Linked DNA regions of Homo sapiens. The protein of the gene in region 2 purifies or fractionates together with the protein of the main gene of each other region. This does not show direct contact. Each region holds a gene or a part of one and is shown on either strand. Other genes may lie near its edges.

Region 1 (4,521 bases), on a different chromosome or scaffold from region 2:
CGTGGAGCTTGCGGCAAGCTGGCGGGCTTCGTGCTCCTGTTAGCTTTGTTTGTGTTTTCAATGAATCAATGGGATATGGAGACGAATCAACATGTTTAGAAAAATACAGAAAGGGAAAAAGAGGACCAGCTCACAGTGCTGGCTGTTCCTAAAAGCTGGCTGTGAAAAGCTCAGCTCCAAGTGTGGGATTGGCGCACGAGAAGGGAGGCGGGGGGGCGCAGACGAGAGCCTGGGAGCCGTGGCCATGGGTCAGCCTCGGTGGGCTGTGTCCAGGCACCATGTGGCAAAGAGAACAAGTGTGGTTGGAGACCTCGAGGCTGTGAAATGCAGACAGGAAGGAGCCCGAGTTTCTCAGCCTGCAGCCACCACTCTCCGCCACCACCTGCTCCCAGGCTCAGATCTCAGTCCCCAGCTCTCCATTCGTTCACACCTGAGCTGTCTTCAGGGGCTTCCTGGCCATTTCCTTTCTGCTACCCTACCTTTCCCACTGCTCAAGCTCAAAGCTCCCCATTTTCTTGCTCAGAGGCTGCCTGGATGTCTTCCGGTTAGATAAGAAGTCCCCCGACATGACCCCACCAGGAGAGGGACGTGTGCCCGTGCTTTATCCCTTCCTATCAGACGGTAAGCCCCCTGAGTGGGGAATCTGTCTCCGACTTAGACCCCAGCCCTGAACACAAGGCTCTGGGCCGACAAAGGATGACAGTGGGCGTGCAAATCTTGGCAGAGTCCCTCCATGCACTGTCAGCTCGCTCTCCATTAGAAACTGACACAGAGAGGGACCCCGTTTGCAGATAGGATGCCATATTTCAGCTCCCCAAATCCAGAATGTGCGGTCCCTCGGAGTCTCGCCGGGACAGACCACAGCACGGGACAACAGAAAAGGCAGTGAGACATTTCATGCAAAAGCAACAGAAACTGGCTGCTTACCTGAGCTCACACAGCCCTGCTGCAGCGGGTCCTGGAGCGATGTCACGGAGTGGAGGACTAAAGTAGAAAAAGGTTATAATTAAAGGAAGGAACGCGGCCCAGGGCTTAAAGCTTCCTAACTGAATGTGGCAAGGCCCGGGGAGGCTTCCCATTCCTCCTGGGGAGGGGCGGGCATGGGGACCCACGGGCCGGGGAGGCGCTGCTGTTGCAAGGCCAGGCCCCCGGGCCGGGAGCAGGTGAAAGGTTTCGCCTGTGACATCTTCCACTTTTGTACCTTTGGCTGACTTTCTTTCCTGACTCCCTGATTCAGCTACTTGACTTTTACCTGTATTTATGTATAAACAGCATTTTTTAAATTGGTAACTCATTTTCTGCTGCTTATAAAATTAGACAGGCATGATCTCTCCTAAACACTGAAGTCAGTCCCACGGCAACAGGTTGTGGAGGAAGGGGACGGTTCTGTCCCCCAGCACCAGCCCACGGTGGGGAGTGTGGTTGGCCACCTCCTGGGGCGGAGTTCCCTCCTCCCTCTCTGCATAGCCCAGGTGGGGCTGCTGTGACCAGGTCCTTGCTATGGGGGGGCAGCCCCTCTCCTGTGGCAGGACCCCCATTACCTGGCCCTTGCTGCTGGCCCTGGACGGGTAGAACACCCTGGCCTAGCTCGCCGTTCAGCCAGAGCTGCATCCGGATGAAGGGTTCTCGGCCTTTCTGCGTCAGCTTGCTCCATGGCTTCGGTCGGGACAGCATGTCGCTGACGCTGCCCTGGGACAGGCCCAGCACCTGGAGTGGCACCGAACACACAGGCCATCAGTGCCTGGCTATTAGCATGACACCACAGATGCTGCTGCAATGCACACCCACCACGCAGAGGGCGCGTCTAGGGCTGACTTCTGAGCACAGAACCACGGCCTGGTGGCGGTGACAGCTTGTGGGCAGGGAATATGCATTTAAAGATCAACGGTGGCTGAGACCCCGGCACAGGGGGACTTTCGGGTGAGCCATGGTTACAGCCACAGCTCTCAGCTCCCAGGGAGGGAAGAGGGTCTCATCCCAGGGTCTTGATCCTGCCAAGATGGCAGGGCTGTCACCCTGACACCCCGCGGAGGAGGTGTGTACAAGCACCTTGCTCTTCACTTGGTGGCACCGGGAAAGGCTAAGGTTCCAGGGACAAGATCCCTCCAGAGGTGGGGCAGTGGGTGCCGGTGGGACTGGCGAAGCTGGTGTCCTCTGCAAACGCTGAGCCAGGCCAGCATTTAGAAAGGTCTGCTTGTTCTGACCACATCCTGATCAAAGGTGGGGGCCCAGAGGTGAGCTGGTGGGACCTGGGGAGCCGGCCTGGGAGTGACATTCCGCCGCAGATGATTGCCGAGTTGCGTGTACACACCCGAGTTTTCTGACGCTCCCATATGGCCATACATATGTATAGGCACAAACACCCCCCACAGGACACAGATGCCGCCCTGGGATATTTAGGGGCTGCATCCGATCACTCTTTTGAAAAGTTCTCAAGTTCCAGAATAAAACTGCACTCACGGGCCAAACAAGTTCAATGTTATTAAGTCTCTGCTAAATTTAAGGCATGAGCACGAATGTCTATTTCAATGTTCTCAAATGGTATTTTTACAACACTGAACTAGAAATCTCAAGGGACTTGAAATACTCATCCTCATTTCTAGTCGCCCCCCTTCACCTTTTGCAAAATCAGGGCAAAGTTCGCCATCGGACACCACCGGGATTCACAGCACAGCATACGGCAAACACTGAGTGGAAGGCGGGGTGGGGAGTGCGGGGACGGCGCCATGCAGGGACCCTGGCTTGGCAGGGGAGGGGGTGGGATTTGTCCCCTGCTGATCCAGCCACGTGCTCCCTCAGGAAGGTGCCTTTTAGGGGAGAGGGGTGCTTCTCCTTCTATTCAGCACTCCGTTATTTAATCTAAAATGGTAGGGGGTTGGGAGGCCAAGGCAGGCAGATCACTTGAGGTCAGGAGACCAGCCTGGCCAACATGGTGAAACCCTGACTCGACTAAAAATAGAAAAATTAGCTGGGTGTGGTGGTGGGCACTCGTAATCCCAGCTACTCAGGAGGCTGAAGCAGGAGAATCGCTTGAACCCAGGAGGCAGAGGTTGCAGTGAGCCGAGATAGCGTCACTGCACTCTAGCATGGGCGACAGAGTGAGACGCCATCTCAAAAAATAAATAAATAAAATGATACTAGGACATGATGTTTATTTTAGATTTGGCAGGCACGGTTAACCCTCATTCTCCTGAATCTCAGTGACCAGGAAAGTGCCAAGAACAGAAAGGCCTAGAAGCTCGTCCATGCACGATTACACTTTCCTGAGCCAGGGAAGGATGATAGGGAAACACGGGCCACCCTGCTTGGGCCATCCCCAAGCTGTGTGTCCCCGGGCAGGTTGCTTGACCTCTCTGACTGAACAATATCCAAGAGTTACACAGAAAGGAACAATAATGCTCTCTGCAGCTTTTTCTAGTAAGTCCCTTTTGGCTCTCTGCGTACTGGTGGTCCCTCTGTGTGATCAGATGGGATTTTTTTTGGCCAAGGAAGCCTGCAGGGGTGCCTCTCAGCTCCCCTTGGCAGCAAAAGCTGGATGTGGACTCGGCTGCCGGTCAGCTTGGGGCAAGTAGTTAACGTCCCCAAGCCTTGGTGTCCTTCCCTGTCAATTGGGGATTTTACCATCCACTTCCCAGCGCCAAGTGAGGGGTCGAAAGGGCAGCATGCAGGTGAAAGGCTGAGCCTAGAACCTGGCTGCAGTCGGGGCTCGGCAAATGGGATCGGGGCTGCAATGTTCACCAGCCGCACCTTGGAAGTCTGGGAGCAGAGGATGCCTTACGCTCTGCTCTTGGGTGAATTGAAATGGGTGAGGGTCACAGGCTGCGGGATAGATACTTGGTCCTCAGCAAGGAGAAGAGATGGGAGAACCAAAGCCCCCAGAGCAGATCCCTTACCTTCTCCCCGAAGATTCTCTGGCAGATGCCGTTCTTGGCCAGCTTTTCCTTAACCTGCCGGGTGAGCTCGATGGTGTCCACCTCCTGGTACATGTAGACCTCGTACTGCTCGGGGGTCAGCGGGGGGACCGAGGGCTTGGTGGGCTTGGACATGGGCACGATCGGGGAGGATGGCAGGGGGCTGTTCTGTGGTGTCTCGCTGCGGCTGGCCCCGGTCAGACTCAGCTCTGAGCTCTGGGAGTATGGGGACTCAGCGCTGGGCCACTCCTTCCAGTACTCTGACGACGAGGGTCCCTGGAGCTGACTGCGCTCGGCCCGAGGCTGGCTGCCACCTCCGCTGCCACCGCTGCCCTTCTCTTTCCCGCCGCCCGTTTCTTCGGCCTTGGCCTCCTCGGAGGAGGCGGCATTTCTTCTCTCCGGCTGCACCGCGCTCCACCAGTGGTCCTTCCAGGCACCGCTGCGGCCCACCTCATTTTTCACCTGTCTCAGGACCCCTTGTGCACAATCGGCTGCTCCCTGGGGGTCCAGCCCGGGGGCGTCCTGGGCCTCCTTTTTGAGGGCCGGGGGGTTCGGCAGAGCAGAGGCACCGGCCTCAGGAGCTGCGGAGGGCTTCTTCAGGGAGATGGCG
Region 2 (3,500 bases):
TTAGAAAAGGGTCAGGGTCAGCGATGAAAAGGAGGTGGCAAAGGGCTGGGACTCACAGTGGTTTTTTCCAGGCAGTGCAGCAGGTGATGATGCTGGCTCTCGATGAGTGAGGTGGTCTTGCCCATGTGCTCCTCTTCTGGGGTGCCCTAGTAAAAAAAGAAGAGAGATTGAGTAAAAAGCTGGTGGCTCTTCCCCTCTCCAGCTCCTTCATTTCTCCACTAAAGGTCAAAGGGCAATAGAATAATCAAATTTTTTTTTATTTGACCAAATTTCAGGGTCAGCATTGAATATGCTAACCTTTGGGCTCAGGGGCCCTTGGTCTAAACCTGGTTTAGAGGTAGTGGTGATAATCCTATGGAAGTGGTGTGTGAATGGGGGGCTGCTACCTGGGGAAAGTTTGGAAACGTGTCCTCCTTGGGGTTCATACTGGGGCTCTGGTGAGAGTGCTGGTGTCCCGGGAAAGAGAAAACAAGCCCATCTACCCCTTTATGTTCCCTAGCCCAGGTCCTCTAGGCACCTACCGTCAGCTCCAGCGCCTCGTTGAGGAGCCCGTTGCGCTTGCTGTGCAGGTATGCATTCGAACTGCCTGTTTTGGCCACACGGATCCTGGCAAGGCGGGCCTTCTGTGATTGGCAGAGATAATAAAAGAATGAGGCAGACCATGATACAAAAAGACAGCAAGGCTGGTGAAGCTGTGAGGCTGGCTTCCCAGGTGACACCTGATGAAGGGGATGAGGCTGTTTCTCTCCAACCTCATGCATCTCCAGTTGTGTACCCACTTTGTATAGCTTGGTTGGGTCAGAATTCCCAGGAGTCTCCACTCATCTCTCCAGCCCGGGTATAATCCTGGCAGGAGAAATATCACTCATCCAAGCTCTCTTCTCCCAAAGGTTTCATGACCTTTATCTACTCAGTATTGCAAAATGCCATGTGCTATTCAGTTGTGCTCCTCAGTTTTCTTATCTCTAACTAAATTGCAAACTCCTTAGAGGAGTGTATGTGATAGCTGCCCTGATTCTCCTCTAGGGTCCAGTACAATTTTCTGCATATAGTAGGTCCCCAAGTATTAGTTAATTATGAGAAAAGCAAGGAGTGGGCCTATGTGCTCTTCAATGCTTCTTAACTCCTCTGCAATTTTTTTCTTTGCACGTATTACTAAGGAAATATATGTTTTATATATTTTTCTTGATACTTTCTCTTTCTCTTCCACTAAAATGTAAATTCCTTGAGGGCAGGAGTTTTTGCCTTGTTTACTGATGTACCCCCAGTAAACAGTAGGTTCTCGATTTTTAAAGTTAATAAACACATTTACAATTGTATATCTGTCTTTGGGAGTAGATTCATGCATGTATATGGTTTTTTTATTTTTTTGAGACGGAGTCTCGCTGTCACCCAGGCTGGTGTGCAGTAGCGTGATCTCGGCTCACTGCAACCTCTGCCTCCTGGGTTCAAGCAATTCTCCTGCCTCAGCCTCCTGAGTAGCTGGGATTACAGGCACCCACCAACACACTCAGCTAATTTTGTATTTTTAGTAGAGATGGGGTTTCACCATGTATCACCATGTTGATACCATGCAGGAGGGCTGCATGGTATCAAGCTCATCTCTCCTGCTTGCACAGGGAGAAGCTGAACACATTACATATGCTGGCTGCCCTTCTCCTTCCTAATGACTGTAATCATTGTCACTATGACAGTAGCACAGCCAAAGAGAGAGGACTAAGGAATGAGACTGAGAGAGGGAGAAGGGACTGGGTAGAGGTTTCTTGCTAGTTTAAAAAAATGCAGCTTGAGGTTTGGGCTCTGTAAATCTATTTACAGCCCCAGGTGCTTGCTACTGGAAGCAGAACAGCCCACAAGGATAGCAGACCCATCCTGGAGTAGAAGGTCCCTCCTCCTGGCTCTGAGCAAGTCCACATGTGACTTCAGCATGGACCCTAAGCAGGAAAAGAGTCCTAGGGAAATTGTGGCAATTTCCACTTCTTGTCACCCTCTCCCCAAGTGTCCTGCTGGGCTGGTTCATCTGCTAAAAGGAGGCCACAGTCTCAGGGGTTCAGGTGGACAACAGAAGCACAAAGGATGTATATCTCTTGCTTCCTGGGAAGTATCTCCTTGCAGAAACAATTCAACTCCCTTCCCAGGCTTCTAAATGTGGGGAAGGGGCCAGGACTTGAGCCTGAAAGATCTTCCTTTAAGTCTGAGGAAGACTGCTCCTCTTGATGAAGGAGAGAATAAAAAGGGGGACCTGGGAGAGAAAGGATGATGGCAAATCAGCCCTATCATTCCTCCTCTCTACAAGCAGAGAACATTGACTAGGGGGCCAGGACAGTTTTACTCCATGGGAATCCTGCTCCAGCCCTCCCCTTGGCTAGATATTTACATTCAAGCAAGTTCCTCATCATTTGAGGATGTGGCTGCAATTGCTTTAGGTGAGTGCTGGGTGTTGAGAGTTTCATATGGAAATCCAATTGTGTCAAGCTTATTATAGTCTTATATAATTTGATTGCACCACTTGGAGCCAGACCGTTCTTGTATCTGGGGTCCGTCTTCATTAGTTTCTAGAGATGAAAGATTCTCCTGTTCTTCTTTGTGGCACTTCTTTTAATCATATCTTACCCTGGGCTCTATTAAAGCAACAGATTGTCATATCAAATGTACTAGATCATTTAATCTCTTCCCACACAGGACAAAGAGGTTTGCAATGGATTTACATAACCATACCCAGAATATGAAATTTGGTGGGGCTCTATGGCTTGGTTTTGAGCTCTTGGGGGCTGGGGCTTGTGGCTTATACCTATTTTTATCTCTAACATCCAACACAGGGTTTCACACTGCACAGGTGCTCAAGCAAAGTTTATGATGGCCGAGGAAGGAAGAAGATCCTATGTGAGTTGGCTGGAAGGCCATGCTTATACTGCCACTGTAATGGGCTCAATCCTTGAGTGGATTGGTCAACTTCACCCTCTTCCATGGCCTTAAGAACAATGTGAGAGTTAAAAGAGAGCTTGGAGATCATCCAGACCAATTCAAAGACAAAAAAAAAAAAAAAAAAAAAGGAGGATGTGAGGGAAGTGACTTATCCAGGGAAAGGCAGTGGACGATCAAGACTTCAGCTCAGGACCTCCAACTTTCAGACCAAATGATGCTTCCAGAACATTCTCCTCCTCCTTCCCTGAATTTCCACCATCAGACAAGTTTCAAAATTTGAGCAAAGCCCAGGAGATTGCATTTTCAACAAATGTGGAGACTCCAGGGTTGGAGGAGAGGGGATCTGGAAGGAGAATGCTGCTACCCTAGGTACAGTTGCAGGTACCATCTATGTTCAAGCCAATACTTCTATCAATCCTTGGGAGGCCTCTCACAATTAAGCACTTTCTTCCTGTCTGGCTGATGGGTGCCTTTTAACCATGAGTATTTCTATCTTTTGCTGTTGGAGAGGCAGAAGGAAGAGAAAGAGAAAGAAATGGAAAGGCCAAAACATGGGAAATTGCATTCTGGGACAT
Region 3 (5,032 bases), on a different chromosome or scaffold from region 2:
AGGGGTGAGTGCTGGCCATTATTTTCAAGCCTCTGCTCCCTCTACTACCTACAATGAATGGCTGGGAGCCCCAAACCTTCTTGGAAATGAGCTTAGGCACAGGCTGCCCTTGTCTGCCCTCTTCTGCATGATGTTCCTTCAGATGAGACAGGAAGGCAGCGCTCCTCTCCCTGGTGGCTTCTCGTCTCCAGAACACACACCCCCAGTACCTTGGACTTTTTCACTCTCTGTAGCTTCATGCTTGGGTCTATCCTTAGAACAATACTGAAGGTATTCTTTGTCCCATAAGGAGCAGCACTGACCCATCCCCTCCCTCCTTTTGGAAATTCTAGTAATACACCTAAGAGTGTGCTGGGGCTGGGCACGGTGGCTCATGCCTGTAATCCCAGCACTTTGGGACGCGGAGGCGGGCGGATCACCGGAGGTCAGGAGATTGAGACCATCCTGGCTAACACAGTGAAGCACCATCTCTACTAAAAATACAAAAAGTTAGCCGGGTGTGGTGACGCGTGCCTGTAGTTACGGCTACTTGGGAGGCTGAGGCAGGAGAATTGCTTGAACCCAGGAGGTGGAGGCTGCAGAGAACCGAGATCACACCAGAGCAAGAGTCCATCTCAAAAAAAAAAAAAAAAAAAAGAGTGCACTGGACTTTTCTGGCAGCCACATACAGTTTTTCACACACAGGGGGTCCAAGTTTCAATGGAGAGAAACAGTTTTACAGAACAGGAGGGTAAGGTGAGAAACTGCCAGCCCCGCCGCATCTCTAGTAACACGTATGGCAAAAGATGAGGATGAAAGAAAAGAGTGCTAATGGGGGCTGGCAAATGCTTACTGTAAAGGACCAGATGGTAAATAATTTAGGATTTGCCAGCCAGATAATCTCTGTAGCAACGACTCAACTCTACCTTGATGGCACAAAAGCAGCTGTAGACAGTATATCAATAAACGAACAGGGATGTGTTCCAATAAAACTTTATTTATAGACCCTGAAATGTGAATTTCATAGGATTTTCATGTGTCATGAAATACTGTTTTTCAAGCCATTTAAAAAATGTAAAAACCTATGACATTATGTTAAGTCATAATGAAAGAAGCTAGCCACAAAGGACCACCTATTGTATGACTCTGTTTATATAAAGTGGGTTTCTCTGTAGGCAAACCCACAGAGAAAAAAAGTAGATTAGCAGTGGTTGCCCAGGGCTGGGAGAGAGAGGGGTTGTGGGTGAGGGGTTTCTTTTGGAGGTGATGAAAATATTCTAAAAAGTGATTATGGTGATGGTCACACAACCATGAATATACTAAAAGCACTGAATTATACACTTTAAATGGGTGAGTTGCGCTGGGCACAGTGGCTCACATCTGTAATCCCAGCACTTTGGGCGGCCGAGGTGGGCAGATCACACTTGAAGTCAGGAGTTCGAAACCAGCCTGGCCAACATGGTGAAACCCCGTCTCTACTAAAAATACAAAAAAATATTAGCTGGGTGTGATGGGAGGTGCCTGTAATCCCAGCTACTTGGGAGGCTGAGGCAGGAGAATCACTTGAACCCAGGAGGCGGAGGCCGCAATGAGTTGAGATTGTGCCACTGCACTCCAGCCTGGGTGACAGAATGAGACTGTCTCAAAAAAAAAAATTAATAAAAACAAAAATATATAACGGGTGAGTTATATGGTAAGCACGCAAGTTATACCTTAATAAAGCTGTGTTTAGGCCAGACCCGTGGCTCACACCTGTAATCCCAGCACTCTGGGAGGCCGAAGTGGGCAGATCATCTGAGGTCGGGAGTTCGAGACCAGCCTGGCCAACACGGTGAAACCCGGTCTCTACTAAAAATACAAAAATTAGCCGGGCGTGGTTGCGGGTGCCCGTAATCCCAGCTACTCAGGAGGCTGAGGCAGGAGAATCGCTTGAACCTGAGAGGCAGAGGCTGCAGTGAGCCAAGATCACACCACTGCACTCCAGTCTGGGTGACAGAGTGAGACTCCATCTCAAAAAAATAAATAAATAAAATTTAAAAATAAATAAATACACCTGTGTTTGAAACTGAAAAACATTCTCGGTTCACGGGCCATAAAAAACCTGCCTGGGCAGACGGGATCTGCGGCTTCTGCTGGTGGTACGGTGGGATCTGGCTATGGACTCTTAATTCCTAACCTGGTACCCCAACTCATTCCATGTCTGCTCCTACTTCTGCCCTCCTCCACCTCCAGGTCTCTGAATGCTACTGGAACTCTGATGTCCCTTCTTCCATGAAGTCTTGCCTAACTCTCCCAGGCACTTTGTTGGCTGTCACTTAATGGACACCTACTATGTGCCAGACATACAAGAATGCTTTACCGTAATTATTCAATTTAAAGCTATCATCACAACAACCTAGAGGGCATTACCCCATTTTACAGACCAGGAAACTCGAGACCCGAAGATGAAAAAAAAAAACTAGCCCAAGGTCACTTGCTGGTGAGTGGCAGAGCTGAGATTCAAACCCCGGAATGAGGCCTGAGCATGTTGATCTCTTCTGGCCCCGCAGGACTGACAGCACCTAGAGGGTGGGTCAGTTGTTCACCCAGGTGGCGCCATCCCAGCACCACCCTGCAGGATCTAGGGAATGAATGAAGGGTCGCTGGCCGAGAAGAGGAAGTCGAAGATTGGGGAAGGGGCCGGGGCTTGTTCGAAGTGAGGTCGAGGGACTTCCAGGACCCGGGACAGGAGAGGAGGGAGCGAGACAGGAGAGGAGGGAGCGAGCATCGCTGTCTGAACGCCCAGCCGGACCCCGGGCCGAGCTTCCTGAGGGTGCCTGTGCGGCTCGGGTGAGGCTGATCCCCACGGCGGTACCGGGGCGCCGGCTACACGAAGCGGCCCTGGGGCTGGGCCAGCCGGGCAGGGCCGGAAGGCCTGAGGGTGGAGATGCCACCCGGCTCCGAGCGCGTGGAAACAGACACGGGCGGAAGCGGCGAGGGGGCGGCCGGAGCGGGGTCGCGAGGCCGGGGCTGGGAGGCGCCCACCTGACCACCCGCCCGCCGCCCGGCTCTGCGGCCCGCAGGCCCCGCTGCCTTCGGCCTCCGAAGTCGGGCCGGGCCGCACGAAGTACCTGGAGGGTTGACGTTGTCATTTCATCTCCTGGGTCCGCCCCACACCCCGCGGCGCTGCTTGCGGCCTCGGTCCGGCCCCGGGGAGCCGAGGTACTGGGTCCGGCGCGGGAAGCCCGGCGGTGGGCGCTGAGCGCGGTGCGCGGGCAGGGCGGCCGCTCGCAGCGGGAGCCGAGTCCGAGGGCAAGCGAGGAGCGCAGCCCAGAGCGGTCGGGCCCGAGCCGAGCGGCTGCCCCCTAGCGTCCACGGCTCGCACTGCAGGCACCTCTCCCTGCCTCGGCGAAGGCAGGGGGCGGTTCGAGAGGCAGGACTGACTGGGGACGAGGAGGTGGGACTAGGGCGAGACGGACAGGGGGCGGGGACGGGGTGGGTGGGACAAGGCCGGGGCGGGGCCTGGCGGGACGTACATTCTCGGGGCGGGGCCAGGGGCGGAGCGGGGTAGAATCCGGAAATCCTGACCTCGCTTGGAATAACAGCGCCCATTGAGCAGTTTTATTCTCACAATAAAACGAACTTATCAGAGCGTTGGTTTCTCCATGTTTAATATCGCACGATCATAATTAGTACCTGCCTTGTCTGGCTTTTGTGGGGAATAAATGAGCTAGCTAATGTAAACAGAGTGTGCCCCACACTGGGGCTCAATCCCTGGTGGGATGCCGCTGACTGTTCAAAGCCAGTTTTGTTTTGCTTGGATTGATTGACTGATTGATTGATACGGAGTCTTGCTCTGTCGCCTAGGCTGGAGTGCAGTGGCATGATCTCGGCTCATTGCGACCTCCGCCTCCCGGGTTCAAGCGATTCTCCTGCTTCAGCCTCCCGAGTAGCTGGGATTACAGGCATGCACACCTACTGTGTGCAGCGTTGTGTGCTAGTTTCTGGGGATACAATGATCAAAGCAGTTCTAGGGCTGGGTGTACTGGCCCACGCCTGTAATTCCAGCACTTTGGGAGGCCAAGGCAGGAGGATTGCTTGAGCCGAGGATCAAGACCAGCTTGGGCAACATAGTAAGACCTCGTCGCTAAATTAAGAAACAAAACAAAACAAACAAACAAAAAAACGCACCAGAGGCAAGTGATCCATTTGTCCACAAGTCTATCCTGTGAGAGAAAAAAAATGGAGGGCAAAAAACATCCAAGTTGAGGCTGGGTATGGGGGCTCATGCCTGTAATCCCAACACTTTGGGAAGCCGAGGCAGGCCGATTGCTTGGGCCGAGGAATTCGAGAACAGCCTCGGCAACAGGTGAACCCCCATCGCTACAAAAAATAAAAAACGTATCTGGGCATGGTGGCGCACACCTGTAGTCCCAGCTACTCCGTAAGCTGAGTTGGGAGAATTGCTGGAGCCTGGGAGGTCGAGGCTGTAGTGAGCCGTGACCAGGCCATTGTACTCCACCCTGGGAAATGAAGCAAGACCCTGCCTCCAAAAAAAAAAAAAAAAAAAAAAAAAAAAAAAAAAAAAAAAAACCAAAAAATTGGCACACCTTAATCTCTCTTCACAAAATGCTAATTAAATACAAAGGAGAGGCCGGGCGCGGTGGCTCACGCCTATAATCCCAGTACTTTGGGAGGCCGAGGCAGGTGGATCACTTGAGGTCAGGAGTTCAAGACCAGCCTGGCCAACATGGTGAAACCCTGTCTCTACTAAAAATACAAAATATTCGCCGGCCATGGTGGTGGGCACCTGTAATCCCAGCTACTTGGGAGGCTGAGACAGGAGAATCGCTTGAACCTGGGAGGCGGAGGTTGCAGTGAGCCAAGACCACGCCATTGCACTCCAGCCTGGGCGACAAGAGCGGAACTCCATCTCTAAATAAATAAATAAATACAAAGGAGAAAACAATGAGGACATTAGCTTGACTACGCGACCGAAGGGAACACCCCTGGTGGTGGGATGCGTGGCCCTCGTGTGTCTCTCCACATGATACCCTGAAGAGAGCATGGCATC
Region 4 (5,311 bases), on a different chromosome or scaffold from region 2:
TTTCTGAAGACTTCATTGTATCACATATCCCAAATGGAAGATTATATGATTTTCCTGTATTTCATGAGAAAAGTGAAATTTGACTAGTTTTGTAGAAGAAATAAACATTTATGCATGGACCACTTTTTAAAAGAAGGATTTTACCATTTAGCTATATTACATATATTTAAAGAAGACAAAAGTATTTCTGAGTAAATGTTTCTTAAGGATAATTTCTATGTAACTGCTGAGATTTACAGAGTTCTCACATTTTCTTCCCCCATAAGGATTCTAAATCAAATTGGTTCAGAGGAAAAGCCAGCATACCCCATTTTTCTAATATTATCACTTCTCCAGATGGTCCTGAACACATCTATTCAATTCCTTTTTCCTAGAAAGTAAAGAGGTATCTTATTAGATATGTACACCCGCTACAAAGGCCACTTTCCTGTTTTTACTTCTTTTTAACATGTCAAGTCTCTTTCATCTCCTACCAGGCAAAAATGATAAGTAGAAAGTAAGCACAGTGATTGCCAGAAACTTCATCTTGGCAACCTGAGCAATGAGAGAGTTAATGGTGGATCTTTGAAAACAAGTGACCATGGGAAATTAAGGTTGGCAGGGATTTAACTCTTCATGAATCATGCTGGAATATTTTTAAGGGCAATGCAGTGGATGTTTTAACTGTGTTTGACATCTAATTAAGGAGAAACAAGAAGTAGCTTTAAAAAAATCTCTATTGTACTTTAGAAACAAAGTACTGGCAATTGGCTACCACATACTTGCTTTGGCCAAACAAACGTACATGTAGAGACAAAAAGGTAATGACAGATTAATAAAATAACAGAAAAAAATTTCCTCAGGCCATTCCTTTTATTCTTCTTCCTGTTGTTCATTTCACAGTTTATTTTACCAAATTATTAAGCTCTAGGTGTATCAATGGGATTGTTATGTAGCTGTAAAGCAGTTTTTTACTTAAAGGAAAGCAGAATAATTCTAATGGATGCCATCACTAAAACAAGGCTTATAAAGACAATATCAAATATATACACCTTGCTAATATATACTGCTTGCTTCATCAGATAGGTTTAAGGCATATGTGTACAACAAAGGATATTCAAATTAAATGTAATATTTTTAATGTACAGAAAGAACAAGTGCCTCCTCTATCATGGAGAGTAACCTATTATCATGGAAATAAAATTCTTGCAAAATAAAAAAGTTTAATTCCCTATTTTTATTTTATTTTAAAATGAATTTAGCACTTAGATATATTCAAGCCTAGCAGATTTTTAAAATATATATCATGATTTTAAACTTGTTAAACTAAAAGTATTACAAATAGCCAGTCACATCTTTGAGAACTAAAGTTGCATGTAAAACTTATAGGGAACATAAACTTGGATAAAGTGGACCATCAACTTAGACTTATTTGATGTCACCTTGTCAAGGAGTGAAAACAGAAAGCAAAACTGATAAAAACACAGACACCATAATATCATATACTATGGAAATAATTTAAAGACAGTTACTAAATTAATTAAATAACGCTACATGATTTTTTAAAACTTACATAAGTACAATTGCACTTCTGTTTGTTGATGTTTAAGTCTCTATTCCCAACTTGATACTCAGGAAAACATTACACCAAAAAGTAAATAGATATTCTAATTCAATGCATTTCATTTAACGAGCACTAAGTCCAAAGAAACACATTACTAGGTGTTTAATTTTCTAATTCAAAGTGTGAAAATTACATCTCTCTTCTGATTTGAGATCCTCATTCACACTAGGGCATTCAGAAAAAGATGTTCCCCATCATATGAGAATTAAAGAATATGTTTTGTGGCATAAGAGCAAGGTACAGTAGACAGACATCTCTACAAATACCTTCAATAATTTTTATTTTAACTTATAGGCTAAAAAATAAGCTTAATTAGAGCTTCTCACTGCTCCACCCCCAATTTTAGAAATCTGAGAATCATAAGAAATCAACACCTTAGGGAGTAAAACTACTTGAGTTAAAACAGTTTAATCTTCAACTCCATTTTAATAATACCTGAGTTATAGAAAGATTTACTGCCACTAAATGTATGTATATCATTTTGGGCTCTACTTTAGCATTACTTTACACATCATCTATCTATAAGACCTATCTAAGCAAATGTGGAACAAACATAAAAAATCCTCAATAAAAATAAGCACATACATTAAATTGTAACCAAATAAAGCACTAGTGATAAAGCTCTTTTTTCTCTCTTTAATTTATACTTTTCAAAAGAGAAGTTTACACAACTACCTATGCAAGCAGACAGTAATGTGTCTGCAGTTCTCACTGAAGTACATATAGAATTAAATAACATAATATTTCAAAGACTTTAGCTTTACACAATTAGCCAAATACAGTCTTTTGTACAATCATAAGGCACTGTGGAAAAACTAGTCTGTTCCATCCAGTTTATGTTCTCTTGGCAAACCATGATCTACTGCTTATGTTAAGCATCTGATTGTCAGATTTGAACAAACTGAATATTCATGATGACGATTAACCATTTCATGTCTAAAACTAAGAAAATGCAATTCATCATAGTAATTATAGGTAAGGCATGCACATCTACAAAGAGACCATTTTTGCATTTCTATTTTTAAGAAAATATTTTAATAGAATTAAAGTCGGAAAAATTAACAGGCATAAGATAGGATAATAAGATATACAGATCAGCGTGTACCAGGCATACAGCTCTTTTCAGCAAATGTGATTAAATGTTCTTTGTTTGCATTTAAGTTGTCATATATCAAACAGAAGACATGCTTTTTACAAAAAGCGTTTAAAGCATCTCAGAAAGATACACATAATCACGTCGGTTTACCAGGTTAAACTAAAGGTTTGATGATTTGGGGTTGGGAGGGAGTTCAAGGAATTAAGGGGGGGGGCGGTTATTACAAAGCTAACCAAATAAAAGAAAAATAAGATTTACCTTTGTAGGATAATTTCAGCCTTGGCACATTGTTCTTCCCATTCTGATAGTTTGCTCTTGCTGTAAGTAATACTCCCCAGAAAAGACAGACAATCCTAGTTAACCAGCCCATGCTGCAGACGCTGTAGGTCCCTTTGCTGCTTTAGTCTTCCTTCCTGTATTGTGCGGCCAGAGAAGTTCAAACAATCTGGAAACTGGAGGTAACAGGTGATTTAGGTCAGTTTCATTCATAAATGCAGACAATCAAGACCTCATGGCAACACTAACACCTCTTCTTCTGTAACAGTCACTGAAGCACAGAAACTTCAAACCCTCCAAAAAGAAAAAAAAAAAAAAAAATTCCGAGCCAGGCACCGGATAATGAGGCACAACTGTTGTGTGGAAAGAAAAAAAAAAAAAATTAACAAGGTCTGCTGCAGTGGTGCTTAAGAAGCAGTTCCTTTTATCTAAGCTCCTCTGATAGCCGGTGGCAGTCTCTAATCCTGCTCCCTGCTTCATTCGGCTCCGGGGAAGCAGAATGAAAGGGAAACAGAGAGAGAGAGAGAGAGAAAGAGAGAGAGAGAGAGAGAGAGAGAGAGAAACCGTGAGCAGCGCGGACTTTTCCTGTACGCATGTAGAGGGAGATGACACAAGATCCCACAGACAGGTTTCCCCAACACTCACTAGACTGGCTGACAATGGGAGAACAGGCGAGCTCAACCTACTCCCCTTCCCTCCTGTCACACAACACATGCAAAAAACATCTCGTAGAGATTAGAGCCGGGAGCAGAACCCTCAGGCGTGCCTGTGAAAGGCATGTAGCTATAAATTTACTTCCCAAGGCAAGCGTTGTTTTATAGCCATTTTTGGGTGCAATTTTGATTTTAAAAATCTGAATTCTGCTACCTACAAAATTTACAATTCATGCTCATTATACAATCCTGCTGAACTTGTGCATTGTATGTGTGCGTGTGTGTGTGTGTGTGTGTGTGTGTGTCTATATATCCTCATCAATACAACTTTAACCACTGAAGGTTTTAAAGCCTTGTTAGAGATCATTCCCTCCTCCCAACAAACCCCCTGGGCTCAACCACCCCCTTCCTCTGTCCCACTGCAATTTCAGGGAAGAAATTCCTACTAAAGCCCATTCCAACAATCAGTTCAAGACAAATATAGGTCCTTTGAGAATTATAAATTACAACGGGGGATTCTCAAAAGGATACTCAGAATTTAAAAACGTCTATGGTTTTCCAGCTTCTGGAATGCTCTGGCTAACATTTTCAATGCATCACATCTCATTAATTAAAGACACTTCCCTAGTTTTGGTTTAAAGGGCAGCGGAAGATGACAAAGTTCACAAAAGTCCCTGCTGAGTGTCAAGGAGTAACATGAAAAGAATATCTCTGTGTCTTCATGAGCTGCTGAAGGGTTACTAAATTTTCTGTGGGACGTATAGGCATGTATTCAGGCAGTCATATGAACACCATTAGTTCCTTCTGAAACAAGTAGTTGGCTGTGGCCTCTCAATTTTCTCTCTTATTTTTCATTCAGTTTTCCTCAAAGCTGATATTTTTACAAGAATCTTTAGGGGATGTATAAAAAAGTTAACAGGACAGAACTTTCTCTCCTTTATTCCCCAAATGATTCTGCCCTACCCCCTCCTACCACCACTCCCCACCCCCCACCTCCAGAACAGCACTTGGAATCCAGAGACTCAACTTCAATAGTAGGGAAACTTCTTGGCTGAAGGGAGAGAGTGAGTCTCACAATTAAAAACATAAACACCTACTGAAAGTGGCTTAGTATTCTTAAGAAAATGATCTAAGCATTGTCACTACAGCTTTCATTACTTAATGTCCACAGACCAATAGAGAAAGCACAGCGCTCGCTCGCTCTGCTTTCTCTCTCTCTCTCTCTCTCTCTCTCTCTGTCTCTCCCTCTCTGCCGTTGGATGTGTGGCTTGTGTGAATGTAGGTGGAGAAGGAGGAAGAGGAGGATTTAAAGAGGGGGAGAATGGGGAAAAGGGAGTAGGAATTCTCTCTCTACTTCACTAGATTGACTCATCAAACAGATCTTATTGTATTTGTCAGTTTCCTCAAGCCTATTGATCAGCCAGTATTGTTAAGAAAATAAAATCCAAAAATAATGTTGATTTTACTGATTCCCACACTTGTTATACTAGGCACTTTCACGCTCTAGGCAATGGATTAAGGCTACAAATGACAAGAGGCTTGTCTGTCTTCCATGGATTACTCTCTATAGACATTCATTCTGCAGAGGAATTCATGTCGCTTTGGGATTATTTCAAGGATTGGACTAATGAATTATCCTATTGAAATCTCACATATAATTAGTTTAAATGCTTTAAGTAGTTT

What was found. Proteins that work in one complex are often made in the same cells at the same time.
Region 1: the proteins of KCND3 (region 2) and CUX1 purify together in Homo sapiens (affinity purification with western blotting, with the first as the bait; one study listed by BioGRID). This does not show direct contact.
Region 3: the proteins of KCND3 (region 2) and VPS4A purify together in Homo sapiens (affinity purification with western blotting, with the first as the bait; one study listed by BioGRID). This does not show direct contact.
Region 4: the proteins of KCND3 (region 2) and SEMA3A purify together in Homo sapiens (affinity purification with western blotting, with the first as the bait; one study listed by BioGRID). This does not show direct contact.

Annotation. Positions count from the first base shown.
Region 1 is NC_000007.14:102,201,577-102,206,097, reverse strand, and holds part of CUX1 (Homeobox protein cut-like 1), read right to left. Parts: coding exon 3,894-4,521; intron 1,708-3,893; coding exon 1,542-1,707; intron 985-1,541; coding exon 928-984; intron 1-927. UniProt on the Homo sapiens protein: May be involved in intra-Golgi retrograde transport.
Region 2 is NC_000001.11:111,780,169-111,783,668, forward strand, and holds part of KCND3 (A-type voltage-gated potassium channel KCND3), read right to left. Parts: intron 624-3,500; coding exon 522-623; intron 147-521; coding exon 57-146; intron 1-56. UniProt on the Homo sapiens protein: Pore-forming (alpha) subunit of voltage-gated A-type potassium channels that mediates transmembrane potassium transport in excitable membranes, in brain and heart. In cardiomyocytes, may generate the transient outward potassium current I(To).
Region 3 is NC_000016.10:69,309,590-69,314,621, reverse strand, and holds the start of VPS4A (vacuolar protein sorting-associated protein 4A), read right to left. Parts: upstream 3,273-5,032; 5' UTR 3,111-3,272; coding exon 3,090-3,110; intron 1-3,089. UniProt on the Homo sapiens protein: Involved in late steps of the endosomal multivesicular bodies (MVB) pathway. Recognizes membrane-associated ESCRT-III assemblies and catalyzes their disassembly, possibly in combination with membrane fission.
Region 4 is NC_000007.14:84,191,518-84,196,828, forward strand, and holds the start of SEMA3A (semaphorin-3A precursor), read right to left. Parts: upstream 3,273-5,311; 5' UTR 3,070-3,272; coding exon 2,958-3,069; intron 1-2,957. UniProt on the Homo sapiens protein: Involved in the development of the olfactory system and in neuronal control of puberty. Induces the collapse and paralysis of neuronal growth cones. Could serve as a ligand that guides specific growth cones by a motility-inhibiting mechanism.